Regions from separate parts of the Homo sapiens genome. Here region 2 is linked to region 1. Evidence: fine-mapped expression QTL. A gene starts in region 1. The other region holds a variant in brackets. All regions are shown on one strand. Distances are between the middles of the regions.

Region 1 (15,753 bases):
GCATTCATACCTCCCCAACTGTAACCATCATCATCATCATAGCTAACCATGATCATCATCATCATAGCTAACATTTATTGAGTGATTTCTATGTGTCAAAAACATTAGTTAGGTGCTTTACATACCTTTTACCTCATCTGATGCCAACAATTTTGTCACACCTTCATATCCATTATTGTGCCTGTTTCACAAATGAGAAAACTGAGTGAGGTTTAAAAAATTAACTTTTTTTTTTTTTTTTTTTTTGAGACAGAGTCTTGCTCTGTCGCCCAGGCTGGAGTGCAGTGGCGCAATCTCTGCTCACTGCAAGCTCTGCCTCCCGGGTTCATGCCATTCTCCTGCCTCAGCCTCCCAAGTAGGTGGGACTACAGGCGCCCGCCACCACACTTGGCTAATTTTTTTTTGTATTTTTAGTAGAGACGGGGTTTCACCGTGTTAGCCAGGATGGTCTCGATCTCATGACCTCGTGATCTGCCTGCCTCGGCCTCCCAAAGTGCTGGGATTACAGGCGTGAGCCACGGCACCCGGCCAAAAAATTAACTTCTTTACCCTAGGGGCAGGGCAAGATGGCAGAATAAAGGACTCCACCAAACATCCCCACCCCTACACAAGAACACCAAGTTTGACAACTATCTACTCAAAAGGAGCACTTTCATAGGAACCAAAAATCAGGTGAGCACTCACAGTGCCTGGTTTTGACTTCAAATTCCTGAGAGAGGCACTGAGGAGGGTGAGAAGGACAGTCTTGAGTTGCTGATGCCACCCTTCCCCCATCCCCTGGCAGTGGCTACATGGCACAGAGAATCTGTATATACACTTGAGAGAGGGAGAATGCCATGACTGTGAGGCTTTGCATTGAACTCAGTGCTGCTATGTCACAGCGGAAAGCAAAACTGAGCTATACTCAGCTGACACCACGGAGGGAACATGTGGACCAGCCCTGGCCAGAGGGTACTCACCCAGCCCAGCAGTCAGAGCATGAGTTCCAGCAAGCCTCACCCCCATTGGCTGCAGTGCTTTGGGACCCTAAGTGAACTTGAGGAGCAGTCTACGCAACAAGGACTGCAATTCCTAGGCAAGACCTAGTGCTGAGCTGGGCTTGGAGTTAGTGAACTGGTGGGGCACATGAGACACCAACTGTGGTGTCTAAGGAAGTGTTTGCACCACTCCTTCCCCAACCCCAGGCAGCACAGCACACAGCTCCAAAAGAGACCCCTTCCTTCTGCTTGAGGAGAGGGAAGAGTAAAGAGGATTTTGTCTCGCATTTTGGATACCAGCTCAGCCACAGTATGTTAGGGCACTGATAAAGGCTGTGAGGCCCCCATTCCAGGCCCTAGCTCCCAGACAACATTTCTGGACACACCATGGGCCAAGGGAGCCCATTGTCTTGAAGGATGAGTTCCTATGCCTGGCAACATTCACCACAAGCTGACTGAAGTTCCTTTGGTCCTTAACTGAGCATCAGTGGTAGCCTGGCAGTACTCCCCACGGGCCTGGTGAGGCTCCTCTGCCTGTGAGAATGGGATGTAAGAATGAGAAGGACTGCATCCTGTGGTTTGAGTTCCAGCTCAGCTGCAGTAGAATAGAACAACAGGTAGACTTCTAAGATTTTAGATTCCCATCCATGGCTCCAGATGGCATCCCTGGACCCACTCAGGACCTAGGGGACCTCACCAACCTGAAGGGAAGGATGTAAGCCTGGCTGGCGTCACCACCTTTGCTGATTGTAGAGCCCTAGGGCCTTGAGCAAATAGGCAGTAGCCAGGTAGTGGTTACAGCAGGCCTTGGGCAAGACCCAGTGTTGTGCTGATACTCCATATCCGACCCAGCACAGTCCCAGTGGCGGTGGCCACAGGGGTGCTTGTGTTACTCTACCCCTGGCTCCAGACAGCTCAACACAGAGAGAGAGACTCCATTTGTTTGGGAGAAAGTAAGGGAAGAAAAAAGAGTCTCTGCTTGGTAATCCGGAGAATTCTTCTGGACCTTATCAAAGACCACCAACGTGATACCTCTACAAGTGTGCAAGAACCACGGTGCTACTGGGCTAGGGGTGCCCACTAAAGCAGATACAGCTTAGATCATAGCACCCAAGTCCTTTTGAATACCTGGAAACTGTTCCCAAGGAGGACAGGCTCAAACAAACTCAGACTGCAAACATGGCAATAAATACCTAACTTTTTAATGCTCGAACACTGACGAACATCCACAAGCATCAAAGCCATCCAGGAAAACAAGACCTCATCAAATGAACTAAATAAGGCACCAGGGACCAACCTGGAGAAACAGAGATATCTGACCTTTCAGACAGAGAATTCAAAATAGCTGTTTTGAAGATACTCAAAGAAATTCAAGATAACACAGAGAAGGAATTCAGAATCCTGTCAGAAAATTTAACAGAGATTGAAATAATTGAAAAGAATCAAACAGAAATTCTGGAGTTGAAAATTTCAATTGACATACTGAAGAATGCGTCAGAGTCTCTTAATAGCAGAACTGCTCAAGCAGAAGAAAGAATTAGTGAGAATAGACAGGCTATTTGAAATTATATCGCCAGAAGAGACAAAAAAAATTTTTTTTTAATGAAGCACACCTACAGGATCTAGAAAATAGCCTCAAAAGGGCAGATCTAAGAGTTGTTGGCCTTAAAGAGGAGGTTGAGAAAGAGATGGGGTAGACAGTTTATTCAAAGGGATAGTAACAGAGAACTTCCCAAAACTAGAGAAAAGTATCAAGATCTGAGTACAAGAAGGTTATAGAACACCAAGCAGATTGAACCCAAAGAAGACCACTTCAAGGCACTTAATAATCACACTCCCAAAGGGCAAGGATTTTTTTTAAAAATGATCCTAAAAGCAGCAAGAGAAAAAAAAAAAAAAAACAAGTAACATACAATGGAGGTCCAATACATTTGGCAGCAGACTTTTTAGTGGAAATCTTACAAGCCAGGAGATAGTGGCATGACATATTTAAGGTGCTGAAGGAAAAAACTTTTACTCTAGAATTATATATCTGGTGAAAATATCCTTCAAACATGAAGGAGAAATACTTTCCCAGACAAACAAAAGCTGAGGAATTTCATCAACACCAGACCTGTCCTACAAAAAAATGCTAAAGGGAGTACTTCAATCAGAAAGAAAAGGATGTTAATGAGCAATAAGAAATTATCTAAAGATACAAAACTCACGGGTATTAGTAAGTACACAGAAAAACACAGAATACAACACTGTAACTGTGGTGTGTAAACTACTTTTAAGTAGAAAGACCAAAATATGAACCAATCAAAAATCATAACAACTTTTCAAAACATAGACAGTACGGTAAGATATAAATGGAAACATCAAGAGTTAAAAAGTGGGGGAAGGCCTCACATGGTGGCTTCTGCCTATAATCCCACAGGGCACCCCTGTAATCCAAGCACTTTGGGAGGCCAGAGGTAGGCAGATTGCTTGAGCTCAGGAATTCAAGACCAGCCTGGATGACATGGCGAAACCCCATCTCTACAAAATATACAAAAATTAACTGGCATGGTGGCTCACATCTGTGGTCCCGGCTACTTTGGGGGCTGAAGTGGGAGGATCGCTTGAGCCCCAGAGGCGGAGGTGGCAGTGAGCTGAGATCACGCCATGCACCTCACTTCAGCCTAGATACAGAGTGAGATGCTGTCTCAAACAAAAAAAAAAAAGAACAAAAAGTAGGGGAACAAAGATAAAGAGAAAGTCTTTATTAGTGTTCTTTTTGCTTTTTAGTTTGCTTGTTTATGCAAGTAGTGTTAAGTTGTTATCAACTTAATAGATTGTAAGAGTATTTGCAAGCCCTGTGGTAATCTCAAATCAAAAAACATACAACAGATGCACAAAAATTAAAAAGCAAGAAATCAAATCATACCACCAGAGAAAATCACCGTCTCTAAAAGGAAAAGTTAACCGCTTTTCCCACATAACATCCAACTAAAAGAAGTAGAACCTGGATTCAAACTCAGGCCTTCTGGCTCTATATCCTGTACCAGTAACCATGCTGCTATATTTCCTTCCAAAATTGTGCTCAGCAAAGGGCTGCACAGAGGCAGTGACTGTTCTGGTGATTTCTGAAGTCCTACATGCTACCTCCAATATGCACCTGGAATGTCATAGTCACCAAAATGGTTTAACACAAATACATCCCTGCACCACACAAGGTCACATGTCTACCAACACAAATTCTTTATTTCAAAGATCAGCAACATATTTTAACTTCTGCTTCCTGATTTTCTGGCCTCTTGATTTTTTTCTTCTTTAAGAATCCAATGCACATTTCGTGAGGTAGCTACTAAAGAGAGCCAGGAGGAAGGAAGAATTCTGCTGTGTCTACTGCCCAGCCCCGGCTGCCAGACACAGCTGCAGCTGGAGGGAGGAATGTGGGATTTGACGGGGAAGCTGTCAGCTGGCCAGCACTGCCAGGCATGGTCAGTGAAGATACAAAGAGCGCCTGGAGGACCCAGCCCTGGTCTCTGACTCCTCACAAAGGTCTCCTTGGGGCTCCCTCCACCCTTGCCCCTCATGTGCCTTGGGATCCAGCATCAAAGTCCAGAAGTGGGCTCAGCCAGCAGCCAGCCATGCTCACACACTGAAGCATCCTGACTCAGCTCCTGGCTGCCCCAGCAGAGCAGAACCTCTGCCCGAACTTGGGGTCACCTGGCTCTTCTCTCTGGAGTCTCATATCCCAGCCCTCAGCAAATCTCCCCCAGCCTCCCTTCCAGCTACATCCAGAATGTGGCCACTTCTCATCACTTCCACCCCTGCAACCCTGACCTGGCAACCAGCCTTGCCCCCCAAGACTATTGCAACCACCCCCCGGCCTGCTCTCTGCTCCTGCCATCATTGCAGCCTTCACTCTTTTGCATTCTGTCTCCCCCAGCACCTCCAGATAGCACTTGCTAGAGGCAGGTCAGTTTTGGCCTCTGCACGAACCTGACAGAGGCTTCCCAAGTGGCTCAGAGTAAAATCCCAGTGACAGCCTTGGAGGCGAGGGCGTTTGGTCACTCTCTGAATCCACCTGCCACCACTTGCCCCTGGCGACAGCAGTCCCCTCACTCTGCATCAGGGACTTTGCATTCCTTGCTCCTTCAGCCTGAAATGCCCCCGCCACCAGGCATCCTTGTGGCCCACTCCTTCACCACATTGAGGAGAAGAGGAGTCCCCTTTCTGAAAGGTCAGGCCCTGCCCCCACCACATGCCCCTGCTCTGTTTTCCCCTGAGCATGTGCCCCACTGGAACACACTGGGTCACCACTTGCCGCCAACGCCTGCAGGACACCTCTCTGAACACCCGTGACACCTCATGGCACCTCTGCTGTCAGAGCTTCACTAGGACTCACCAGACTAAGCAGACAGTTATACCCACGGCCAACACACAGCAAGGACACAGCGGGGTCTGGAGGGGTCAGGGCACAGACTCGCTGAGCTCTCCCTCCCATGAAGGCTGCACAGAGCATACCCTGCGCCCTGCATCTCCCCAGGGAAGTAGAAGCTCAGAGCTGGGGCAGAGGTTGGGGCTGGTCACGTAGGCACACTCTCTGCCCACCACAACTAACAAGATTCCAGATTCCCAATAGGAAAGCAGGTGTTCACTAATCACATTGTCTGTAAAAACAGTCAGCAGGCCGGCACAGCGGGGCAGGATCCTGAAAGTTAAGTTCCCAGATGCCAGCCCAGGGCCAGCCCCTGTCATCAGCTGTCCCAGTGAGGAGGTCTGCTGTGAAGGCTCACAAGCTTCGCTGTTGGATAGTCTTCACTAAAATATGAGCCCCATAGAGGCTTTGGTTTTGTTTGTTCGTTGCTGTGTCTCCCTGGTGCAGAATGAGTGCTCCATAAACATTTGTTGAATGAATTAAGGACTGTCAAGTATAAGCCCACCAGCCAGTGGCAGAAGCAGGGCTAGCACCTGGAGATGAACGTTCTCCCCTCTCTGGGTGGGGCTGCCCAAGCCATCAGGACCTCACCAGGGCCCCTTATGACCAATGGCCCTGCCTCAGAAAATGGTGGAATTTTCTTTTTTACAAACCCACCTTCCCTAATCAGGGACAAAAGCTATGATGTTGGCTTCATTCACATAAAGATCTAATCGAATGAGCTTCCCTGGTGTACCCCCAGTAGGTCCTGGTGCAGGCGCGGGTTGCTCTGTTTCTTCTCTGTGGTTTCGTGGAAACAATCCCACTCTCTAGATCCTCTCAAATTAGCTCTGACAGGTTGTGACTTTCTGAAAGCAAAATATCAAGATTTAGCCACAGGACATGGTGAGCTGTGACCTCTGGCTTCCTAGCTCCACCTTTGTATATAGCGCTGCCCCTCCTTAGGCCTGGACCTCCTTAAGAAAGGCAAGCAGCGAACAACTGACAGGATACGGTCTTTGCCCAAGTGCTATCTCTAACTGTCAGCAATCATTAATTCCACAAGCGAGGAACCACACCTCAGAAACCAAGGTCACCTTCAGTATGGAGGGGCCAGCCCCAGCCAGGGAGCAGGAAGAGAGGTGGCAAGGCAACAGACCCCAAATTTCAAGTGTGACATCTCAAGTTCCCCAGCCACAGTGCACACAAACATGAGCAGAAACAATGGCCTTGGCCAGACATGGTCACTCATGCCTGTAATCCCGGCACTCTGGGAGGCCAAGGCAGGAGGATCACTTGAGGCCAGGAGTTCAAGACCAGCGTGGGCAACACAGCATGACCCCGTCTCTACAAATATATATATGTATATAACAACAGACTTACCAGCTTTTCTGCACAAGGATTCTGTTCGCCTCAGCTTTCCCAGTGCCTCTCTAGAGGGCTTCTCTATCTCCTCTGTCTCTATAGGATTCCCACAAGCCCCTCTTCACCCCCACACTTCTCTAGAAGCGCATAGGGAGGTTCCTCACTCTACCTCCTCCTTCCAGACACACCACCTGCCCTTCCTCAGCACAGCGACACAAACCGCACCCCACTCCCCGCATCAGCCCTGACCTTTTCCCATGTTGGGAAACACACCACATCTCAGTTCAGGACTCTGCTCCTACCCCCACTCACACTCCCACTCCCACCCCCGCCCCTGCCCAGTGTGTCCTCTTCCTCCTAAGTCCCTCGTGTATCGCAAAACCCCACACAGGCTCTACCTTGTGGATCCTCGGGGCAGCAGCCCCCCAGGGCACAGGGCTTGGAATTCACTCACTGGCCAAGGACCATGCTCTCTGCAATGAGGCAGGTAAAGAAGGTGTGCTGGGTTGCATAGCATCCCCCTAAAAATTCATGTCCTCCCTGGAACCTCAGAATATGGTCTTATTTGGAAATAGGGTCGTTGCAGATGAATTAGTTAGGATGATGTCATACTGGAGTAGGGTAGGCCCTCAATACAATCACTGGTGTTCTTGAAAATAGAGGTACTGAGACAAGGAGGACGCCATGTGAGGACAGAGATTGGAGTGACATGGCCACAAGCCAAGGCACTGAGGGACACCAAGGATTGCTGGCAACACAGAAGCTGGAAGAGGAGAGGAAGGACCCTCTTCTTGAGCCTCCAAAGGGAGCATGGCCCTGCCTACACCTTGATTTCACACTTTAGGCCTCCAGAACTGTGAGACAACCCATTTCTGTTACTTTAAGCCCCTGTGTGTGGTCCTCTGTGACAGCAGCCATGGAGGCTACTGCAGAGGGGATAGAGTCCCAGGACTTGGGGGCTTGCAGTCTTGAGGGGAATCTCCTTCCAAGCCCTTGCAGGACAGGCCCTTGGGCATCAATGTGTTGCACTTACTCTGTGCCACCTTGTAATATTAATCCTTCTATGTACATGTTATGGGCCCCGTTACATAAAAAATGCAATTCTTTCTGGTGTGCTTCAGCTCCCTGCCTACACGCAGTGTTCCTCCCTGCCCTCACTGCATCCTCCAGGTGCGGGACCTGTGGTGGTTCCTGTCCTCAGCCACATCTACCCTGGTGTGAGGACCTGTAGTCACTCAGTCTGTCTCCCAGGCCTTTCTTTTATTTATTTATGGACGTCCATTGCAGAACTGAATTAATTCTACCTCAGTGCATGGATGTCGTCATCACTGGCCCATACAAGTCCTCTCTCTTGTCTTTCTCACGTGTGTATGTATGTATTCCCACTCCCACCCCCGCCCTCACATCCATTCTAATGTGTATCCACTCTTGAAAGCGGGTGGCTTGGTGTGTACGTGTTTCCTGTTGTGTAATGGCATCGTGCTATCACTCATCCTGCGTCTTCCATGATCCTGAGATCCCTTCTCAGGAGTGGCTGTGTGGACATCCATGCCTTTGCACCCGCCAACTGCACAACACCCCATGGTGTGCAGTGACCACTCTCCTGGGGGTGGCACCCCGATGGCCTCCAGCTCCCCAGCCTCACAGCCACTTGTGTCTGCATCCCACCTCTAGGCCTGGGTGAGAACCTCTTTGACATATATTCCAAGAGACAGAGTTCCTGAGTCTGGAGAGCATGCAATTCTCTCATTTGCCCACACCCTGCAAAGTGCCCTCCAGAATGGCTGTGCCATCAATAACCCCTTCCCACAACCACACATAAGGTCCCCGTTTCCCCACATCTCTGTCAACACTTGGCATCATCCAGCTTTCCCATGAAAAATTATATCTCGTTGTTGAATGCTTTGCATTTTTCTAGTAACCACTACATTTGAGCATCTTTCCATGTGCTCTTTAGCCCTTTGGGGTGCCTCTTCTGCAAGTTACCCTTGGGATTCTTTACCAGGTTTCCATGGGGACTGCTGCCTCTTTCTGACCGATTTGCAAGAGCTCCTTGTGTATTCTAGATATTAGTCCTGTCACTTTTTGAAAACAGCTTTATTGAGACACACCTTACAATTCACCCATTTAAAGTGTATAATTCAATGCATTTTAGTACATTCACAGGTACATGCAGCCATCACCTTCAATTTTAGAACTTTTTAATCACCTCAAAAAGAAACCCCATAAGCATTAGCTCTCACCCCATCCCTCCATCGCACCCCAGCCCTAAGCAACCACTAATGTGCTTCTCATCTGCTTGAGAGATTTACCTACCCCACACGTTTCATATAAATGGAATAATGTGGTCTTTTGTGACTGGCTTCTTTCATTTGCCGTAGTGGTTTTAAGGTTCATCCACATTGTGTCATGTAACAGTGATTCCTTCCTTTTTATGACTGAATGATGTTCCATTGAGTGGATAGACCACATTTTGTTGACTCATTTATCAATGCAGAGACATATGAGTCGTCTCCACTGTTTGGCTATTGTGAATAACACTGCAGTAAACACTCTGGTACAGGTTTCCCCATGGACATAGGCTTTCCTTTCTCTTGAGCATATACCCAGGAGTGGGATTGCTGGGTTATATGATAACAACGTTAAGTCATTTGAGGAACAGCCAGACAGTTTTCCGAAGTGGCTGCGTCATCTCACCATGAACTGCCTGTGAGGCTTCCAGTTTCTCTGCCTCCTGGCCCCACCTGTTATTACCTTGCTTTTGAATTCTAGCCATCCTAGTGGATATAAAGTGGTATCTCCTGGTGGTTTTGATTTGCATCCCCTGATGACTAATGACATTGAACAGCTTTCCATGTGCATATTGGCCATTTGTGTATCTTCGTGAGGGGAATATCTATTCAGATCTTTGGCTCATTTTTAATTGGATTATTTGCCTCTTATTATGGAATTGGAAGAGTTCTTCTTACATTCTAGATATAATTTTCTTATCAGATATATAATCTGTGAATATTTTCTCCCATTCTATGCTTTGTCTTTTCATTTTCCTGTGGGTGTCCTTTGAAGCATAAAAGTCTTTTAATACTGATGATGTCAATTTATCTATTTTTTTTTCTTTGGTTATTTGTGCTTTGAGGTCACATCCAAGAATTAGATGTAAAGTCAAGCAGATTTACTCCTATGTTTTCTTTTTAAGAGTTTTACAGTTTTAGCTCTTACATGTATGTCTTTGGTCCCTTTCGAGTCCGTTTCCGTGTGTGAAAGGGTCTAACTCCATCATGTGCATGTGGCCCCTTTCCCTTTAAATCTTTGCAAGTCTCTTTTCTCGATCCATCCTCACTCCATTAACTTTGTCGCAGTTTCCTTTGTGGAATGGAAACAGATTGTAGTCCTCAAAATCAGGTTGTTCCTGAAACTCTCTTCTAATCCAAATCCCCCCAATTCTCTGCGGAGTTGGTGAGCCCATAACTGAGAATACATAACTCACAGTCCTCTTGAACACTGAGGGTGAAAGACGTTAGCATTCATTGTCTTTGTATCAATCATCATTTTAACATGGAAGGCAAATCCCCTTCCTCAGAAACACCAAAGACCTTCTGGAATTGCAAGCAAGCTTCAAGTTGACTAAGTGTGTTCACCTTCCTTCATCTAGCTGCCAGTGCACACTGAAATGGCTTGCATTGCGGGCAGCAGGAAGGATGATGATGAGAAATACAAAACCCCTATAACCACAAAGCGGTGTGCAATCCCTGAGCAACCAAACCTTGGTAATGGGGGATGATGACCCCTTGGCACTCCTGAGCCACGAACTTTTCCTGACTCTATTCTTTCCTTTCCAACTAGGAGTTACCCCGGTCACCACGTTCGCCCTTCTCAACCTGACTAAGTGGGCGTTAGCACTGTCCGCCCACTGCATGGGCACTACCTGCCCCAGTGTCCTCTCCCCTCTCCGCTCTGTGCCATAGCCTTAGCTACCCTGGCCAGCTTTCTCCCAGCCAAGTCCTTCCTCCTTTCTGAATCTGGTCAGGGTCTCAAAGATCGTTAAAAAGCCGCCAAAGTTTGCAACTCGTCTTGAGTGGCTGCTCCTCCCAAACGGTTCTGCCTCTGGTGTCTTGTTCTAGGAGCGGTTGAATTCTCTGTTTTGCTGTGGGTGCCAGCCTCTATCAGCCCCTGCCCTGGTCCATCTGTCAGCTTCAGGTAAGACTACCGGCTAGGAAATGGCCCCTTGTCCTTATCTCTGCCTCTAAAATATGCCACCTAAATTAACAGATCGTGGCATTGCATGGCTCGTCACAGAGAAGCCAAGGCAAATTCTTGTGGAAGGCGGCACTTGTCTGGAAACAGACTCAGGACAAGTGTGCTGCACAGCCAGCTTCCTCAAACCCACTCTCGCCACTGTAGCTGCCCACAGAGGCACCTCCCAAGCCATAGGCCCCTCCTAGGCCAGCTCAGGCCTCACCTTGTCCCTCCCTGCAGGGCGGGGTCTGATTGACTTCAAGAAGGAGTCAGAGATCAGCTTAAGGGCAAAGGCTGGAAGCAGAGCGAACTGGGAGCAGAGCACACAGGTGCGTTCTGATGGGTATTCGGGAGAGTCAAGAAGGGGCTGACCTGGAGGACAGAAAAGCAGTGGAAGGAGGGCACAGAGTGAGGGGCAGAAGAAACAGGACACAGAGGGAGGAGGGCCAGGAAGTGAGGGCGGGAGCCCAGCACATCACAGAAGGTGCCCGGGTGCTTGGTGGCAGGCAACAGCCGGCCAGGGTGGAGTGGGGAAAGCTCAGAGAGGAGGGTGAGCAGGGAGAGGGCTTGCTTCCTGTTCCTGCCTGGAGGTCTCACCAGCCACCACCCCCACTGCCACTGCACATGGGGACAGAGGTTTGTCCTGGGGAAAGCAAAGGTCTCTTCCACATCTTTCTCCTTCCTGGAAAAGCAAAAAGAAACGTGGGTATAAGAGGTTGTAAAAAAGGAGACCCAGCCGTGAAAGGACATGGAGGTACCCTAAATGCACACTGCCAAGCAAAAGAAGCCAATCTGAAAAGGCTGCAGACTGTAAGATTCCAAATACAGGACGTTCTGGAAAAGGCAAAACTATGGAGACAATAAAAAGAGCAGTGATTGCTAGGGTTTCGGAGGAAGAGGTGGAGCACAGAAGATTTTGGGGGAGGTGGAACTATTCTGTGTGATATTCTAATGGTGGATCCATGTCATTGTCCGTTTGTCCAACCCATAGAATATGCAGCAGCAAGAGTGAGTCCTGATGTAAACTGTGGGCTCTGGGTGAGAGTGATGTGCAGGTTCATCAGCCACAAATGTATGGCTCTGGTGTGGATATTGATAGTGGGGAGGCTGCGTGTGTAGGGGCTGTGAGTATACAGAAACTCTCAGTACCTTTCGCTCAATTTTGCTATGAACCTAAAATTCCTCTTTAAAAGACTCCTATTTAAAAGACTTTAATAGACTTTATAAAGTTTGTTAAAAGACTTTTAATAGACTTTTTAAAGACTTTTAACAGACTTTATAAAGTCTATTAAGAAATCTATTAAAGTCTATTTTTAAAAGTCTATTAAAAAAAAAGTCTACTATAATCCCAGCACTTTGGGAGGCCAACGCAGGAGGATCACTTGAGCCCAGGAGTTCAAGACCAGCCTGGGCAACATAGTGAGATCCTGACTATATATATATATATATATATATATATATATATATATTTATTTATTTATTTATTTAAGTCTAATAAGAAGTCTATTTGGGGCCAGGCCTGGTGGCTCATGCCTGTAATCCCAGCACTTTGGGAGGCTGAGGCAGGTGGACCACTTGAGGTCAGGAATTCAAGACCAGCCTGACCAACACGGTGAAACACCATCTCTACTAAAAACAAAAAATTAGCCGGGCATGGTGGTGCACACCTGTAATCCCAACTATTCCAGAGGCTGAGGCAGGAGAATTGCTTGAACCTGGGAGGCAGAGGTAGCAGTGAGCCAAGATCGCATCACTGCACTCCAGCCTGGGCTACAGAGCAAGACTGTCTCAGGAAAAAGAAAAAATAGTCTATTTAAAGAAGAAAAAAAAGAGGCCTGGCCAATATTTAATAGGAGAACACAAGAACTCACCTCATATCCTTCCTGCTGGCTCTGGGTTCCGCCTGCAGCCCCTGCCTCACCTGCTCCCTCCAGGTAAGCAGGGCCTCCGAGAGCCCAAGATCATGTGGGTTCCAGGGTCTTCTGCCAGCACCAGAGGGCAAGACAAGGCAACTAGAGGGACATCCCCATGAGAGGCCATGACCATGGAGCAAAACGAGGGCAAGGGGAGAGCCCTCGGGGAGAGGGGCATGGGAAAGGGAGAGAAGGACATCTCAGATCAGCCTTTACCGTGGCCTCCAGGGCTAGAGAGCCCTCGGGTGATGGAACAGGCCCAGCCAACACCTTTCATTTGTCTATGAATCAAGAACTGCCCATCGTGTACAAATTAAATACAAAGTGCTAAGGGGACTAGTGGAGAAGTATGTTAGTTGGGGCCAAAAACAGCATTCCTCGGCAGTGCGGGGTTTCAGCTGACCTCAAAAGGTGGCAAAGGATGTGACACTGGCCCAGAGTCGGGTGGGAAGGGACAATGTGCAGCTGAGCTTCTCTGGAGGAAAAAAGCCACGGGAAAACAGGGCCTCTAGTTAACACATGGGTTGTGTTCCCAACGCTTGTGCTTCGGAAATGTGATGTGTAAATGCATTTTCCAAAAACAAAAGCAAGAAATGAAAAGCGCTCATGATGGTCAGGTTTCCTCAGTGGGTCACTCCACGATACACCCAAAGTGGAGCTGCTGCACCTCAGTTACACCTCACACCCTGTGCCGCCGACTTTCCAGGTGAAATCCTCGGGGCCTCCCTTGCAGGCAGCCTGGGCCCCCTGGGAAGAGGCTGGGCCAGGCAGAGGTCTGAGACAGGAGTGGATTAACCCTCTCTGCTACCTGTCTGTCTGCACAGGAGAACGAGTTTTCTCCAGGTTTACCCCCAGGGCTTCTGATTTAGGGAGCAAAAGGCAACTACCTATGAAAATATGAAAACAAGGATCTCTCAGAGTCCAACCCACTCATGCATCCACCTTATAAATCAAGTGTCTGTGCCTCAGGCACTGCTTGCAGGAAGTGAAAAGCACAGCTGAGACAGGGAGGAATCCTGAAGCGGGGCTCCCAGCTCAACCCAGAGCCTTGAGGAAGGGGGTGCAAGGTGGCAAAGGCAGTGCTTCTGTAGGGAAATTTCACGGTGACGGCAGCCTTCCAGGGAGGCCCACATCACCTAGGAGGACAAGTTAGGGTCTGGAGAAACTAAGGCTGGGAGACAGCTCCAGCCAGCATCTGTAGCAACAGCGCAACAGGCAAGAGTAACAGTCTCCCAGAGACTCCGCACACAGCACATGGGAAGACAGAGCTGTGGCCACCACGTCTCCCAGCCCTGCAGGAGGCTCACAGCTACAAGCACAGGATTTTACAGCTGCTTGGGGAATGGGGTTATGAGGTGAAGACCCTGACCCACCCTCCCTGAGAAAGGAAAAGGCATCTTCCTAAGATGAAACCCTCCCTGAGGTCCCCTCCTAGTAGCCTTGGGTGGACAAGAGAGGTGAATGGGGCACAAAGAAGGCTAGGCAGGACTGGGCACCTCTACCTCACCCCCAAAGCCATCAGTCTGCAGCCTAGTCACACCTGAATCACTCTACATTGCGTAAAACTTTAAATGGGCTGGTGTCGATAGCCTGTATTTAACAAGAAGAGCAGCTAACATTTCTCATGTATTTCCCATATGGCAGACATTGTTACAAACACTTTATATTTACTGTTTAATTGATTTCTCTCCACAACCCTAGGAGCTAAGCACTGTTGTCATTATTTTCATTTTAAAACTAAGAACATGAAGGCCCAGAGAGTTTAAGCAGCGTGCCCAAGGCCACACAGCAAGTCCTAGTGGCATGAGTCACTGGGACTTGACTCAGACAGCCTGACTCTAGAGCCTACCTTTGAATTTCTACACTAAATTTCAAAATCTGTCTACCTAAAAGGTATTTCGTTGTGTCAGAAATGTAGTTTTGCTGTTAATACAGGTGTCTTCTTCTCCAGGACACAAGAAGCACCTGGGGGCATGTGCAGGGGCCCAGCCTGGCCTCTGTGACTCACGGCACCCCTGGCTGAGATAATACACAAAAACAAGGGTGTTCCCCTGAGTAAGGAAGGCTGCAGGACTGAAGGACATTTACAGAGGAGTGAGGAGAGGGCAGAAATAAATGGATGGATGCACAGGCAGCGGCCCGACGGCGCTGGGGACTATGCATGGGGCCCCAGCTGCCCCAGGACAGCCTCCAGCTTGGGGCAGGGCAAGGGGAGGAAGCTCAGTCCATGGGAAAATTCCATGGCCCTAACCTGAGGGAAGCCCATCTCTGCCCATAAGACAACTAAGTTCATCTCCTCTATTGCATTCCAGAGCCGTGGAGCGAGAGATGCCGGCCCTGGGCTGGGCCGTGGCTGCCATCCTGATGCTGCAGACGGCCATGGCGGAGCCCTCCCCGGGGACTCTGCCCAGGAAGGCAGGGGTGTTTTCAGACCTAAGCAACCAAGAGCTGAAGGCAGTGCACAGCTTCCTCTGGTCCAAGAAGGAGCTGAGGCTGCAGCCCTCCAGTACCACCACCATGGCCAAGAACACCGTGTTTCTCATCGAGATGCTGCTGCCCAAGAAGTACCATGTGCTGAGGTTTCTGGATAAAGGTGAAAGGCATCCTGTGCGGGAAGCCCGTGCCGTCATCTTCTTTGGTGACCAGGAGCATCCCAATGTCACCGAGTTTGCTGTGGGGCCCCTGCCAGGGCCCTGCTACATGCGAGCACTGTCCCCCAGGCCTGGGTACCAGTCCTCCTGGGCATCGAGGCCCATCTCCACAGCAGAGTATGCCCTCCTCTACCACACCCTGCAGGAAGCCACCAAGCCCCTGCATCAGTTCTTCCTCAATACCACAGGCTTCTCATTCCAAGACTGCCATGACAGATGCCTGG
Region 2 (15,753 bases), 88 kb before region 1:
GCACCCGAGATTGAGGGGGTGAAAGGATATTAAAGGGAGAAGGCAGCTTTTTCAGGTGTTTCAGGGCAAACTGAGTGCCTGTAGGGCCTGAATCTGTGGCTGCCCCTGTGTGCTGAGAGGGATCAGCCCTCCGGGAAAACATGCAGCAAAGCTATTCACGTGCTGTGTTTGGCCAAGAGATTGGTGGCGGGCCATTTCCTCCGAGAAGGAGAACCTGAAATTGCTACTGTCTCGGAATCCAGCCTGAACAGAAAGAGAAGTGAAAAGGGTGCTTCTCAGAAACATCAGGATTGTTCTCATTTGCCTCAATTATTTTATTGAGGAGTTTTTCCTCTCCAGTCACAGTGCTATCCCTCTAGCCCAAACCACCACTACAGAGAACCCCACCCAAGTGCCACACCAGCCCTCTGGACAGCACTATCATCGCTCCCCTCCAAAAAAAAAAAAAAAAAGCCTATTCTGGGCTGGCCATCAACTCACCTCACTCATCTTATATCCATCAATCCTTCCATTAATTCATTTTAAAATGGTATTAAATGTCTCACACATGGAATATGGTTGGACCAGTTTAACCTGTCCAGGCACAGTGGCTAATGCCTGTAATCCCAGCACTTTAGGAGGGAGGCCGAGACTGGAGGATCACCTGAGCCCAGGAGTTCAAGACCAGCCCTGGCCACATGGTAAAACCCCATCTCTACCAAAAAAAAAAAAAAAAATTAGCCTGGCACAGTGGTTCATGCCTATAGTCTCAGCGACTAAGGAGGCTGATGTAGGAGGATCACTTGAACCCAGGAGGCCAAAGTTGCAGTGAGTCATGATTGTGTCACTGCACTCCAGCCTGGGTGACAGAGTGAGACCCTGTCTCAAAAAGAAAGAAAGAAAAAGAAAGGAAGGAAGGAAGGAAGGAGGGAAGGAAAGGAAGGAAGGAAGGAAGGAAGGAAGGAAGGAAGGAAGGAAGGAAGGAAGGAAGGAAGGAAGGGGAGCAGCTCATGCCTCAAACTGGGAGAGCATCATCTCTAAGCTAATGAGAGTAAAGAATGGTTCCCTCCACTATGAGGGACATGGTGGAGAAGGGGAAGGTGGAGACCCCCACTGGAAAAACTGTGAAATGCTCTGAAACTAGTGGTTGACCTTGGACAGATTATCTTACTCTCATTTGCCAAAAGTAGCAATAATATTCTCTCTACTTCCCTCACTGGAGTTTCCAAAAGATAAATGGCATGCTGATTAGAAAAACATAACGTGCAGTTGTGAGGATCTGCCAGTTAGAGGGTTATGAGTCAGGGTAACTGCCTAGTAATAAAGCCCTTGCCATCTATGACTTCATTCTTGTGGACAGTGGAGTTTTAACTACTTCTATATATATATATAAACCACACTAAGCCAAGAATTTACTAACAGGGAAAATTATTGGGGCAAAAGGTGAGGAGTATAGGGGAACTCTCAGTATTTTTCATTCCCATTTTTCTGTAACTCTAAAACTGCTTTGAAAAATATATACATAAACGTAACTGTATATATATACATACAGTTATATATATATTTATATATTATATATTTATATATATTATATATACATATATATATAATATATATATATATATATATATATATATAACTGCAGATCATCTTGAGTCCTATTCCTGAAATCTTTCTCCCCTCTTTAAGATGGAAACTACTTCCATCAAGTGGAGTGGTATAGTCAACAACAAAAGGCAATGGGAATAAAATGAGATTGAAATCAAAAGATGAATTTTCAGCCTGTCCTTCAAAGACTATCCCCTACCTTCTGTGGAAGACCAGGGTGGGGGAAGGATGTTCAGGTGATCTTTCCTTGCCCTGCAATTTGTGGGGAAGCCATATGTGTACCCACATAGAGGGTGCAGCAGCCACTATGTGCATATATGAAAATGCTCTTGCACAAACACAAGAAATGAGCTCATCAGTATCACCATAGGGGTACCATCTGAGCTCATTCTATTCCAGACTTTAGGTTCTTAAAAATATAATATCAGTCATATTTTCAGTTAGCACATATCTGGGACTTTAGGGTATATGATTTTTTCTCCTAATTCAGGAATAAAGAAACTGAGGTTTAGAAAGATCAAGTGTCTTGTCCACGCTGGCACAGACTGTTACTGGTAGAACTGGGGGGTCGGGGTGGGGGAGAGAAGAGAAAATGAAAGAAAACAAAACAAGCCTTGTTATCTGCCAGGTCCTGGAATTTCTTGCAAGGTCTACAGATGGCCTAGGAGCAACCCTCCCTCTCCTAGGCAGTCTCTCTCACTGTCTTATAGGCTCTTTATAAAAACACAAGAGCAATGAGACATGATGAACCTGGCCACAAATTTGGTCTGCTAGAGAGAGAGAGAGAGAGAGAGAGAGGGACCATATCCCTGGGGACAGGAAAATAACAATGTGTGTGGGTTTCCGTACAAAGCCGCCCTCAGAGGGTGACTCAAGGCCCTGAGAGACAGCCAGGGTAAGAAGCTGTTTGTAAAACAGCTCTGCTTCCTTTTTCCCACCACACCTCTGTGATGCTTTTGTGCAAAACAAACTTTTTACCAGAATTAGCAGGAGCACTGAGACCCGGAAAAGCCACTAAACATCTGAATATGGCTGCATCCCAGGGAAGGCCAACAGCTGCCTGTTACTGGCCCAGGCTGGACATATACACATCTCCCAGCCACCATCTGCAGTGCGCCATAAAGAGAGTTTCTTATTTTTGTTGTTTTTTTTTTTGAGAAATGGGGTCTCCCTATGTTGCCCAGGCTAGTCTTGAACTCCTGAGCTCAAGTGATACACCTGCTTCAGCCTCCCAAAGTGCTGGGATTATAGGCATGAGCCTGGCCAAGAGAGTTTCCTATATTGAATTCTAGATGGCAGTGAGGACTGAACCCAAGGGCACTCTCCAGGTTCCACTGCACAAGGAGCAGGCATCTTTCTTGAAACATTTTATGGCTCCCTCTTACTTCTGCCAAATGCCCTGCCCTCAGGTTACCTGTGCTCTGACCTGAGGGGGAGGCAAGGCTTAGGAGATTTCCCCACCCAGGAGGATTTCATTTCCGCAGGGACCAGGAAGACATCTGACCCCATTCATGATGTGATTTAGCCAAAGTGACAAGCCCTTGACAAGTTAACAAGGGGCTCGGGAGAAGGGAAGAGGGTGGCCCCGGTCATGCTGGGAGCCTCTGTGTTGTGGTGGTGGGTGCAGGGGGAGTGGGCAGAGCTCCTCTCTGGGGACTTTCTCAGGTGAATGAGGCAGAGCTTGATCAGTTACTTGCACATTTGCATTTAGATGGATTCAGTTTTTAAAGAAATTATAAGCCAGAGAGTGAGATACAGGTGACTCCTGATTCTTTGATTTAGTTTGGAGAGGAGGGCGGTTCTAACGCAGATAACATATACAGTTCGCACTTTGCAATGAAAGCCAGATTTGACTTCCAAAATATTCTCTCATATTAATATTGTAATGTTCACTTTTCATATAATAACAGTTATAACTTTCCCTCTCTAAAAGTCTGTAGAATTATGGTGGTTTCATTTCAAAATGTGTTTTCCTAACAGTGAGATGTAAATAGAAATCTGGTAATTCCTAACAGGACTAAATTCTTATAAGATTTTTTGGACAAATCTAAAGGGAATCACTGATATGTCTCTCTCCTACCACAGACATGCAGGTAATAAAATAAAATAGTCAAAGAGTTTGAGAATCTTATCTCCTTTAAGTTCACAGTGTGCTAAGTAAAATAGAACTGTCAACTGTGGTCACATATCTTGCAAATACCACCCCCTGCTGTTTGTCTCTTAAGTTTGCTATGGTGAGTTTTTTGCTGTCTGGAAATTTGAACAAATGTTTTCTTTATGGCGCTGTCATTCTTAGAAAGCTCTCCTTTTTTGTCCCATTATTTAAAAATATATTACTTATGTCCACACAAAAATCTGCACACAAAGGTTTATAGCAGCTTTATTCATAATTGTCAAAACTTAGAAACAACCAAGATATCTTTCAATAGGTGGATGGATAAATAAAGTGTAGCACATCTAGACCATGGAATCTTATTCATTCAAAAAGTAACTGGGCTAACAAGTCATGAGAAAGCATAAAGAAAACTTACATGCATATTGCTAAGTGAACTAAGCCAATCTGAAAAGGCTATATACTGTATGATTCCAACTAAATGGTATTCTGTAAAAGGCAAAATGATGGAGACAGTAAACCAATCAGTGGTTGCTGGCGGTTCCAGGTGATGGAGGGAGAGATGGATAGGTGGAATATAGGGAATTGTTAGGGTAGTGAAACTATTCTGTGTGATACTATAATGGTAGATACATGTCACTACACATTCATCAAAGTCCATAGAATATACAACACCAAGGCTGAATCTTAATGTAAACTATGAACTTTAATTAATAATAATTTATCAATATTGGCCCATCAATTACAACAAATGTATCACACTAATGCAAGATGTTACTAATAGGGGGAATTGCTAGGGCAGACGGTGAGGAGTATAGGGGAACTCTCAGTATTTATCATTCCCATTTTTCTGTAAACCTCAAACTGCTTTTTAAAACAAAACCTATTAATTTTAAAAAGGGGGAGATTAAAGAAGATAAGATGAGGAAAGAGTGAGTAAAAGAAGGTGGGATAGGGAGAGAGGAGTTGAGAAGGGATGAGAAGAGGAGAGAGTGGGAAAGAGGGGAAGAGGAAAACAGGGAGGAGAGGGGTAGGAGGGAAGAACAAGGGTCACTTGCACACGGTAAACTCCTTACCCTATAAGAACTTATTATACAACACATTGGAGAGACAGCCAAGATAACTAAGTTGTCATTAGATTAAAATTATATGAATAATATGAAGGTGTGAAGTGAGTCTTATATAACAAAAGCCTTATATTAACCCAAGATGTAGATCATCTTTTATACTGCTACTCTGTACGACTTTTATGGTTCGTAATAAATGCTTTTATTTTTCATGATTCACCTAACAATATTTTCTTTATCTAGCTACTTTTTGTTTTTTGTTTGTTTGTTTGTTGTTTTGTTTTTGAGACGGAGTCTCGCTCTGTCACCAGGCTGGAGTGCAGTGGCACTATCTTGGCTCACTGCAACCTCTGCCTCCCAGGTTCAAGCAATTCTCCTGCCTCAGCCTCCCGAGTAGGTAGGCGCCACCACACCCAGCTAATTTTTGTATTTTTAGTGGAGACGGGGTTTCACCATGTTGGCCAGGATGATCTTGATCTCCTGACCTCGTGATCTGCCCGCCTTGGCCTCCCAAAGTGCTGGGATTACAGACATGATCCACCGCACCCGGCCCTTGTTTTGTTTTAAGCCTGCTTTGGCTTATCTGTATCTCTCAGTTAATTCCCAGGATGGATGGATAGATAGATAGATAGATAGATAGATAGATAGATAGATAGATAGATAGATAGATTCATAGATAGATAGATAGATGATAGAATACAGATATTAATATCTAATAATATAGAGATCTATAGGCTAATAATTGTATATAATATGTATAATATATGTAATAGCAGAGAAGTGGGACTATGATAATTTGAGGCCTTAAACTATCTGTGAATATATACAATGTTATTTAATGATACACTCTAATTAATTAAAAACATATAACTCCTGTACCAAGGACTAAACTTTTTTTAAAGGGTGAACAAATAATAAGTCAATAGAGGAGATGAAATAGAATCATAATTCCAGTAAATGCTCAATTACCTCAAGAGAAGGCAGGAAAAAATAAAGGACA[G/C]ATGGATTAAATAAAAAATAGCTAAGAAAATGGTAGATTTTAATTCAGTTATATAATAACACGAAATGTGAATGATCAAAATATACCAATTAAAAGACAGAAATTTCCAGATATGATTTAAAAACAAGACCTATGTATATGCTGCCTTAAGAAAAAGTCACTTTAAAAACAAAGACATAAATATGTTACAAATAAAAGAATATTAAAAATGTATACCATCAAACAATATCCAAAAGAAAGCTGGAATAGCTATATTCATGTTAAAAAAAAAAGAAGCTTTATCAAGTTGAATGATGAAGAAAAAGGTGAAATTTTAAAAAAATAAAAAATAAAAATAAATAAAAATTTTTTAAAACTTCAGAACAAAGAGTATTATCAAAGGTAAAAAGAAATACTACATAATGATAAAAATGCCAATTTACCAAAGTAACATAACAATCCTAAATGTATATGAACTTAACAAAAGAGCTTCAAAACTCTTAAAGAAAAATTGAAAGAACCAAAAGCTGATATAGATGAATATCTACATTACAGTTGGAGATTTTAACACATCTCTCTCAGTAATGGATAGAACAAGTAGCTAGAAGATCATTAAGTATGTAGATGACTTGACCACTATCAACCAATTTGACCTATTGACACTATTGACCTAATGACACTATTGACCTATTGACACTTGACCTATAGCATACTTCGATCAACAACAGAACACACATTCTTCTCAAATGCACATGGAGCATTCACCAAAATAGACCATATTCTGAGCCATGAAACAAACCTTAACAAATCTAAAACAATAGAAATTACATAAAGTATATTTTTACACCAAAATGGAATTAAATTCAAAATAAATAACAGAAAGAATCTAGAAATTGTCCAAAGATTTGAAAATTAAACACATACTTGAAAATAACCCTTGGGTACAAGAAACCTCAAGGCAAATTTCATTTTATTATACTTTAAGTTCTAGGGTACGTGTGCACAACGTGCAGGTTTGTTATATATGTATACATGTGCCATGTTGGTGTGCTACACCCATTAACTCGTCATTTACATTAGGTATATCTCCTAATGCTATCCCTCTCCCCTCCTCCCACCCCACAACAGGCCCTGGTGTGTGATGTTCCCCTTCCTGTGTCCAACTGTTCTCATTGTTCAATTCCCACCTATGAGTGAGAACATGCAGTGTTTGGTTTTTTGTCTTTGCGATAGTTTGCTGAGAATGATGGTTTCCAGCATCATCCATGTCCCTGCAAAGGACATGAACGCATCCTTTTTTATGGCTGCATAGTATTCCATGGTGTATATGTGCCACATTTTCTTAATCCAGTCTATCATAGATGAACATTCCGGTTGGTTCCAAGTGTTTGCTGTTGTGAATAGTGCCGCGATAAACATACGTGTGCATGTGTCTTTATAGTAGCATGCTTTATAATCCTTTGGGTATATAACCAGTAATGGGATGACTGGGTCAAATGGTATTTCTAGTTCTAGATCCCTGAGGAATCACCACACTGTCTTCCACAATGGTTGAACTAGTTTACAGTCCCACCAACAGTGTAAAAGTGTTCCTATTTCTCCACATCCTCTCCAGCACCTGTTGTTTCCTGACTTTTTAATGATCGCCTTTCTAACTGGTGTGAGATGGTATCTCATTGTGGTTTTGATATGCATTTCTCTGATGACCAGTGATGATGAGCATTTTTTTATGTGTCTGTCAGCTGCATAAATGTCTTCTTTTGAGAAGTGTCTGTTCATATCCTTCACCCACTTTTTGATGGGGTTGTTTGTTTTTTTCTTGTAAATTTGTTTGAGTTCTTTGTAGATTCTGGATATTAGCCCTTTGTCAGATGAGTAGATTGCAAAAATTTTCTCCCATTCTATAGGTTGCCTGTTCACTCTGATGGTAGTTTCTTTTGCTGTGCAGAAGCTCTTTAGTTTAATTAGACCCCATTTGTCAATTTTGGCTTCTGTTGCCATTGCTTTTGGTGTTTTAGACATGAAATCCTTGCCCATGCCTATGTACTGAATGGTATTGCCTAGGTTTTCTTCTAGGGTTTTTATGGTTTTAGGTCTAACATGTAAGTCTTTAATCCATCTTGAATTAATTTTTGTATAAGGTGTAAGGAAGGGATCCAGTTTCAGCTTTCTACATATGGCTAGCCAGTTTTCCCAGCACCATTTATTAAATAGGGAATCCTTTCCCCATTGCTTGTTTTTGTCAGGTTTGTCAAAGATCAGATGGTTGTAGATGTGATATTATTTGTGAGGACTCTGTTCTGTTCCATTGGTCTATATCTCTGCTTTGTACAAGTACCATGCTGTTTTGGTTACTGTAGCCTTGTAGTATAGTTTGAAGTCAGGTAGCGTGGTGCCTCCAGCTTTGTTCTTTTGGCTTAGGATTGACTTGGCAATGCGGCCTCTTTTTCGGTTCCATATGAACTTTAAAGTAGTTTTTTCCAATTCTGTGAAGAAAGTCATTGGTAGCTTGATGGAGATGGCATTGAATCTATAAATTACCTTGGGCAGTATGGCCACTTTCATGATACTGATTCTTCCTATCCATGAGCATTTGTTTGTGCCCTCTTTTATTTCATTGAGTACCAAAGCCTGGCAGAGACACAACAAAAAAAGAGAATTTTAGACCAATATCCCTGATGAACATCGATGCAAAAATCCTCAGTAAAACTGGCAAACTGAATCCAGCAGCACATCAAAGAGCTTATCCACCATGATCCAGTGGGCTTCATCCCTGGAATGCAAGGCTGGTTCAACATACTCAAATCAATAAACATAATCCACCATATAAACAGAACCAAAGACAAAAACCACATGATTGTCTCAATAGATGCAGAAAAGGCCTTTGACAAAATTCAACACCTTCATGCTAAAAACTCTCAATAAATTTGGTATTGATGAGATGTATCTCAAAATAATAAGAGCTATTTATGACAAACCCACAGCCAATATCATACTGAATGGGCAAAAACTGGAAGCATTCCCTTTGAAAACTGGCACAAGATAGGGATGCCCTCTCTCCCTCTCTCACCACTCTTATTCAACATAGTGTTGGAAGTTCTGGCCAGGGCAATCAGGCAGGAGAAAGAAATAAAGGGTATTCAATTAGGAAAAGAGGAAGTCAAATTGTCCCTGTTTGCAGATGACATGATTGTACATTTAGAAAACCCCATCGTCTCAGCCCAAAATCTCTTTAAGCTGATAAGCAACTTCAGCAAAGTCTCAGGATACAAAATCAATGTGCAAAAATCACAAGCATTCTTATACACCAATAACAGACAAACAGTGAGCCAAATCATGAGTGAACTTCCATTCACAATTGCTTCAAAGAGAATAAAATACCTAGGAATCCAACTTACAAGGGATGTGAAGGACCTCTTCAAGGAGAACTTCAAGGCAAATTTTAAAAATATGTTTAAATAAGTTGATATAAAATGCCAGCAAATCAAAATTTATGGAAGAAAGCTAAAGGAGAGCTTAAAGGAAAAATTATAACATTAAATGCTTATACCAGAAAAGAAGAAAAACCTCAAAAAATTAATTGCTGCATTCACCTTAATAAACTAGAGAAAGAAGAGTAACGTAAACCCAAAGCAAGCAGAAAGGGGAGAAAAGATAAGAACAAAGTTATGAAATTAAAAACAGAAAAAAATAGTAGAGAAAAATAATAGAATCTCAAAACTGGATCCTTGAAAAGGTTAACAAAATTAATGGGTACTATCCTCACTACCAAGGTGATGGGATCCATACCCTAAATCTCAGCATCATGCAATATACCCATGTAACGAACCTGCACATGTACCTCCTGTATCTAAAATAAAAGTTAAAAAAATTAATAAACCTCAAAAAATGGTTTATCAAGATAAACTTCTCTCCAAAGAAGATATTCAAATGACCAATAAGCACATGAAAGATATTCAATATCACTAGCTATTAACAAAATGCAAATCAAAACCACAATGAAATATCACTTCACACCCATTAGGTTGGTATTATCAACACACATGCACACACAAAAAAATAAAAAAAAATAGCAAGTGTCAGCAAGGATGTGAGAGAAATTGGAGCTCTTGTGCATTGCTGGTGGGAGTGTAAAATGGTGCAGCTGCTGTGGAAACGATATGATGATTCCTCAAAAAAATTAAACATAATTACCTGTGATCCAGCAATTCCACTTCTGGGTATACACCCAAAAGAAGTGAAAGCAGAGACTTGAACACATATTTGTACACTGTGTCCATAGCTGCGTTATTCACAATAGCCAAAAGGTGGGAGCAACCCAAGTGTCCATTGACACATGAATGAATAAACAAACATGATATATTCATACAATGGAATATTATTCAGCCTTTTAAAATAAGGAAATCCTGACTCATGCCATCACCTTCAATGGCAAAAACTCTGATTACTTTTGCACCAAAAGTACACTTCTTTAAGGAGTCCTGGTTCCTTTCATTGGGGAATGGCAGTATAGCAGTTTCTTATAAATGGAAAATAGTTTTGCAATTTCTTATAAAGTTAAACATGCACTTACCATGTGACCCAACAATCCCACTCCAAGGTATTGACCTAAGTTAACTGAAACCTTATGCTGACAGAAAAACCTGTACCTGATTTTTTTTTTTTTTTTTGAGATGGAGTCTCACAGGCTGGAGTGCAGTGATGCTATTTCAGCTCACTGCAACCTCCGCCTCCTGGGTTCAAGTGATTCTCCTGCCTCAGCCTCCCGAGTAGCTGGGATTACAGGCATGCACCACCACGCCAGGTGAATTTTTGTATGTTTAGTGGAGAAAGGATTTTGCCATGTTTGCCAGGCTGGTCTTGAACCCCTGACATCAGTTGATCCTCTTGCCTCAGCCTCCCAAAGTACTGGGATTATAAGCGTGAGCCACTGTGCCTGGCCCTGAATGTTTATAGCAGCTTTATTCATTACCAAAGCTAGAAATAGTTCAGCTGTCTTTCACAGATGAAAGGGTAAGTAAGTCTGTGTATATCCAGACAATGGGATACCATTCAGCAATAAAAAGTATCAACCCACAACACATGAATGAATCTGAAATTCTTTTTGCTAAATGAGAGAAAATCCAAAATGTTACATACTGAATGATTCTATTTATATGGCATTCTGGAAAAAGCAAAATTATAAAAATAGAAAACAAATCCGTGGTTGCCTGGAGTTGGGGGAGTCCTATGAAATGATGCCCCACTAAAGGGCCTCATTAGGAAACTTTTGGGCAGTCCAATTGTTCTGAGTTAAACTGTCTTGTTGTACACGTGACTCTATGCCTTTCTCAATCCCATAAACCTATACACCACAAAGGGTAAACTTTGCTGTATACAAATTTTTAAAAAATCAACTGAGATCTTGGGGAAATCCAAGATGAAAAGCGGACTGCTAAAATGAATCTAACCGTATTACAAATAAAAAAACATAACCATACGGAAGTTAGGAGGGAAGAAACGAGCTGACCTAAGTGCCTTTGTAAAGCAATGTTTTGACTGGAGAGTGTCAGGCCAAAGACAAGAAGAACAGTACAGAAGCAACAAACTCTCATTGGTAAATTCGTTTTTCACAAACAACCCTAAACCTATGGTATACTTGGGCTCAAAAATAATTAAATATAGTGTAAGCTATGGGATCCACTTTTCTCATTGTCAGAAAGAAGTTACAAATAAGCAGAGATAATGCTAGAATAAATCCTGGTGCTGGACTGGAGTTAGAAATATCAGTATGAACTCATGGTTGATTTATTTTTAGTAGATACAAAAATATAATATGTGTGCATATATGGGTCAGTTATACATACATGAATTACCTAGCTCTGCCCACTGAGAGAGAGGAGACTATGAGCAGTGACACCAGTAGCAATGAGCACAGCCAGCACTCAGATCTTGATTTCGAAATGCCGTTCCCTGATGAAAGGAACCAGGACTCCTTCAAGAAGTGTAGAAGTGGCTGATTCCAGGGCTAGGATAGGGAAAATAAATATAAGATGAGCCTGGAACACCTTATAGTGCCAGAAAGTAAAGAAGTGAAAACAGGATAAAGCATGTGAAAAATGCAGAAGAGGAGGCAAAAATTTGCCCCTCCTCTTTTATGGTTTTGTTGTTGTTGTTGTTGGGGGTTTTTTGTTTTTGTTTTGTTTTCTTGTTTGTTTGTTTGTTGCCTGGGCCTGGAGAATTAAATAGACATAAGACAAATCAACAGGAGAAAAGTATATAAATTATTTAATGCAAGTTTTTTAATGGCAGGAGAGCATTCATAAGGAAATGAAGACACAAAGCAGCAGCTAGAGTCAAACATTTATGCCCTGAATTGTGAAAATGTAACAAGGCAAAGGGGCTTATGCTAGGGTAAATAACTGGGTAAATAAGTAATTAGGAACATAAGGGATGCTTGTATAGATTCCTATCAGCCTCAACTTCCTATCCTTTGTGATGAGAATGTTACTTTCTTCTTGGTTTAGGGAGAACACCTTTCACATGGGAATTTCATCTCTGGCTTTTAAAGAACAGTGAAGGTCAGAGTGATCTTCTTGCATCTCCTGTTTTTATGTGCCTTTAGTTTAAAATAATTCTGATGCCAAAGTGGCATATTTGGGGATGATGTGTTCTGAGTGACATGTTTTGGGGTAGTGTATTCTGAGCCTCTTCATTCCCCATTTGAAACTTTACTTTTAGAAAGTTTCATATGTTAAAAGCCAAGTTAGTAGCTGTGAGCAGATTTGGGTTGGAAGTTGTGAAACAAGAGATCAACGAAGGGAAAGAAAAACAAGGATCGGAACACACAGAAGAACAAATATTCCCCGTATCTTATTGACACAGCCTTTTAGTCCTGAGAACAGTTCAGTTGAACAGTTGCGTCTCATTTTAGGAGGCCGTGTTGCAGTTGGGCTTCCATCCAAGTTGAGACTTCATAATGTAAACAATAAGAGGCATTTCTTTTTTTTTTTTTTTTTTTTTTTTTTTTTTTTTTTTTTTTTTGAGATGGAGTCTCGCTCTGTCGCCCAGGCTGGAGTGCAGTGGCGCGATCTCGGCTCACTGCAAGCTCCGCCTCCCGGGTTCACGCCATTCTCCTGCCTCAGCCTCCCGCGTAGCTGGGACTACAGGCGCCCGCCACCACGCCAGGCTAATTTTTTTGTGTTTTTTAGTAGAGACGGGGTTTCACTGTGTTAGCGAGGATGGTCTCGATCTCCTGACCTCGTGATCCGCCCGCCTCGGCCTCCCAAAGTGCTGGGATTACAGGCGTGAGCCACCGCGCCCAGCCCAATAAGAGGCATTTCTATGGAAACAAAAGAAAAATAAAGGTTAATGTTTAGGGCAAGTTATAAGCCCAGCTTTTGAGTCCAGAGGGCAATCAGTTGGTAAAGGGTACTATAGGTTGGGCTCAAAGCATCTTTAGATAGAGAGTGAAGATAAGCAGTGGTAATTCTGATCAATTTCCTGATTTGCAGTTTGAATGTCTCTGGTGAGGTCATTGGGTGTTCCAGTGGACTTTCTGAGTGGCCTACACAGCAACAGGCACAAAGGTTGCTTATATATTAGTTGTGGTAGTGAGTTCTCTGAAGTTTATATCAAGTCATCCAGTTTCAGCTTGCAAAATTTCAGGAAAAGGGCAGCTTCAGTTTTCAGTGATGTCAAGTCAAGAGAGTAGGAGAAAAACATGAAGCATTAGCCTGAAGATTTGTTGCCGGATATGGGAGGAAATTAGAGTTTAATATCTAATCCATTCTACATATAGATAACAAAACTTCAAAGACAATGAACAGTACTAGAATCCAATAACGGGTACACTATAGTTTTTGTTAATATAATTTTTCTCTCCACAGTCACTCCCACTTTTACCAAACATAATCACAGTAAGACTAATTTTTTTACAAAATAAGTCTAGTCACATTAAACTTGTCTTGATTATTTATATAATGCAGCAAGAATAGTGATTGATCGTATAGGCTCTTTTTAAGTCTGCTTTGCTGGAACTGCTAATAAGGAATCTAAAAGCCTCTCAAGTCTAGGAAGCCAAGCCAAGAGCTTGTCATTAGATTTTGCCTGTAACACCTCTAGATTTGGGTGAGTTCCTCTGTTCTCGAGGTCTCCAAAATATTTTTAAGGCTCCTGGGCCTGCATGAAAGTTACCTTCTTTACTCAACTATAAGGCTAGGAACTCTGTGAGCAAGGTACCAGGCTGGGGGTTTTTTAAGGGGCCTTATTCGCCCCACAAAGTCATCCTTAGTTTCTTAAAACTGTGTAGTCATATCTGATTCTATGACATTCTAAAAATTACATTCCAAAGCTTTGGTAATGTAACCAATGTTTTCCATTGTGTCCTGTTACAAACAGATAGATTCTTATTGGACCTATACAAACAACTATGGTCATGAATGTAAGAATACTCACTCATCATTTTCAAATTCTGGAGGGATTAGGTAGGGAGAAAATCAAATGCTTTATTTCTGTTTACAAATGCATAATCTACCAGATTGTGGTCAACTACAGATAGCGTAGGATAAAAGAGAAAACATTTCCTCAGATCTGGAAAACAAAATATTAAAGAACGAGCAATGTTTTGAAAAAAGGTAATTTTTTAAAGCATCATTTTTTTTCATCAGTTCATTTAGTCCCATCCAATTAATTTTTGTTTTGCCCAACATCGGGTTAACAGTTTTACAAACCAGTCAGTTTCTTCATTAGAGTTCTGGAAATTCTTACCCAGGCCAATGGTGGGATCTTAAAGTTATCAAAAACCTGTACTTGTTGGAGTCTTTTCCATGATCTCTTTGAAGACAAATTTTGACCATAGTGGCTTGCAAAAGCTTTTAGGAAAATATCACAGTAAAATAACATGTAAATTATAAAAGATTTTTAAGTAGTCACATTTAAATATCTAATGAGAGTTTCTTACAATCTAATTGATGAGGAAATTTGGTTATTTCTGTGACATACAACATTGTAAAATAAGATGTAGAATTCTGATTGATAACATTATATCAGACATATGATGAATAGCTAAGGGTATTGACAAATTTTAAAGAATTTTATTTCTGAAACACTCTTATTAGTAACATGTGCCCATATAAATATAAAGAAAGCTAAACGTCACTTTTACTTGACAGTGCTTCCCACATAATTTAACATATCAAATAAGCCAATTAGTTTAATGTCCCTCTTTTACAAGGTGAGAGAGAAATTCTTTCACATTTTCCAGGAGCCCATCTCAAAAGTCCCAAAGTTAGTTCAAGATCAATAAAAAAGGCTTAATTTAGAAATTAATCTTGGGAAGTTTGTCAGAAACGTCAAAAGGGGCCGAGTATGGTGGCTCACACCTTTAATCTCCACATTTTGGGAGGCCAAGGCAGGAGGATGGCTTGAGCCTGGGAGTTAATACCAGCCTGGGCAACACAGACCTATCTCTACAAAATATTTTTTAAAACATTAGCGGAAGATAGTAGCATGCACCAGTAGTCCCAGCTACTCAGGAGGCTGAAGTAGGAGGATCCATTGAGCCCGGGGGTCAAGGCCGCAGTGAGCTGTGATCATGCCACTGCATCGTAACCTGGGTAACAGAGTGAGACCCTATTTCAAAAAATAAAAACAATAATAAAAACTAGGAGTGGAAAGGATAGGGGTTTAGATGAAACAAGATTGCCCATGTATAACTGTTGATGCCTAATGATAGATACGTTGAGTTCAGTACGCTATTTTTTCTACTTCTATGTATTTAGAATTTTCCACTTAAAAAGTTTTTTTAAATAGATTGACAGAGGTTTATCAAAGTTCATAATATTTCAATTTTTCCAAATATTTTAGATATAATGGGTTAAATGGGATACTTTTCAACCTTTCAGTGAAAGAGTAAGACATACAATTTATAGTCATTTGGTATGTCTTGATAAAGCTTTTTTGGTATACTTCCCAGACATTGAGAAATCAAGTGATTCTAATGACTGGCCATTAAATCCTTCTGCAAG

The links.
Region 2: its variant is fine-mapped to the expression of AOC1 in whole blood (TOPMed, PIP above 0.99).

The regions. Positions count from the first base shown.
Region 1 is chr7:150,841,265-150,857,017 of GRCh38, forward strand. AOC1 (amine oxidase copper containing 1) reads left to right here and starts at 11,253. Exons shown (of 5, transcript NM_001091.4): 1 at 11,253-11,294; 2 at 15,191-15,753. The coding sequence starts at 15,207. LOC105375567 (a long non-coding RNA gene) reads right to left here. Exons shown (of 5, transcript XR_928171.3): 2 at 126-181. RefSeq lists enhancers at 10,835-11,406, 15,571-15,753.
Region 2 is chr7:150,753,251-150,769,003 of GRCh38, forward strand. It overlaps LOC105375566 (a long non-coding RNA gene), which reads right to left. Exons shown (of 4, transcript XR_928163.2): 3 at 11,602-12,726; 4 at 8,337-8,377. Among named protein-coding and RNA genes, the nearest start is that of GIMAP5, 24 kb to the left of the region's middle. RefSeq lists silencers at 2,344-2,393, 2,434-2,493. The variant G/C (reference allele first, on the strand shown) is at 5,768.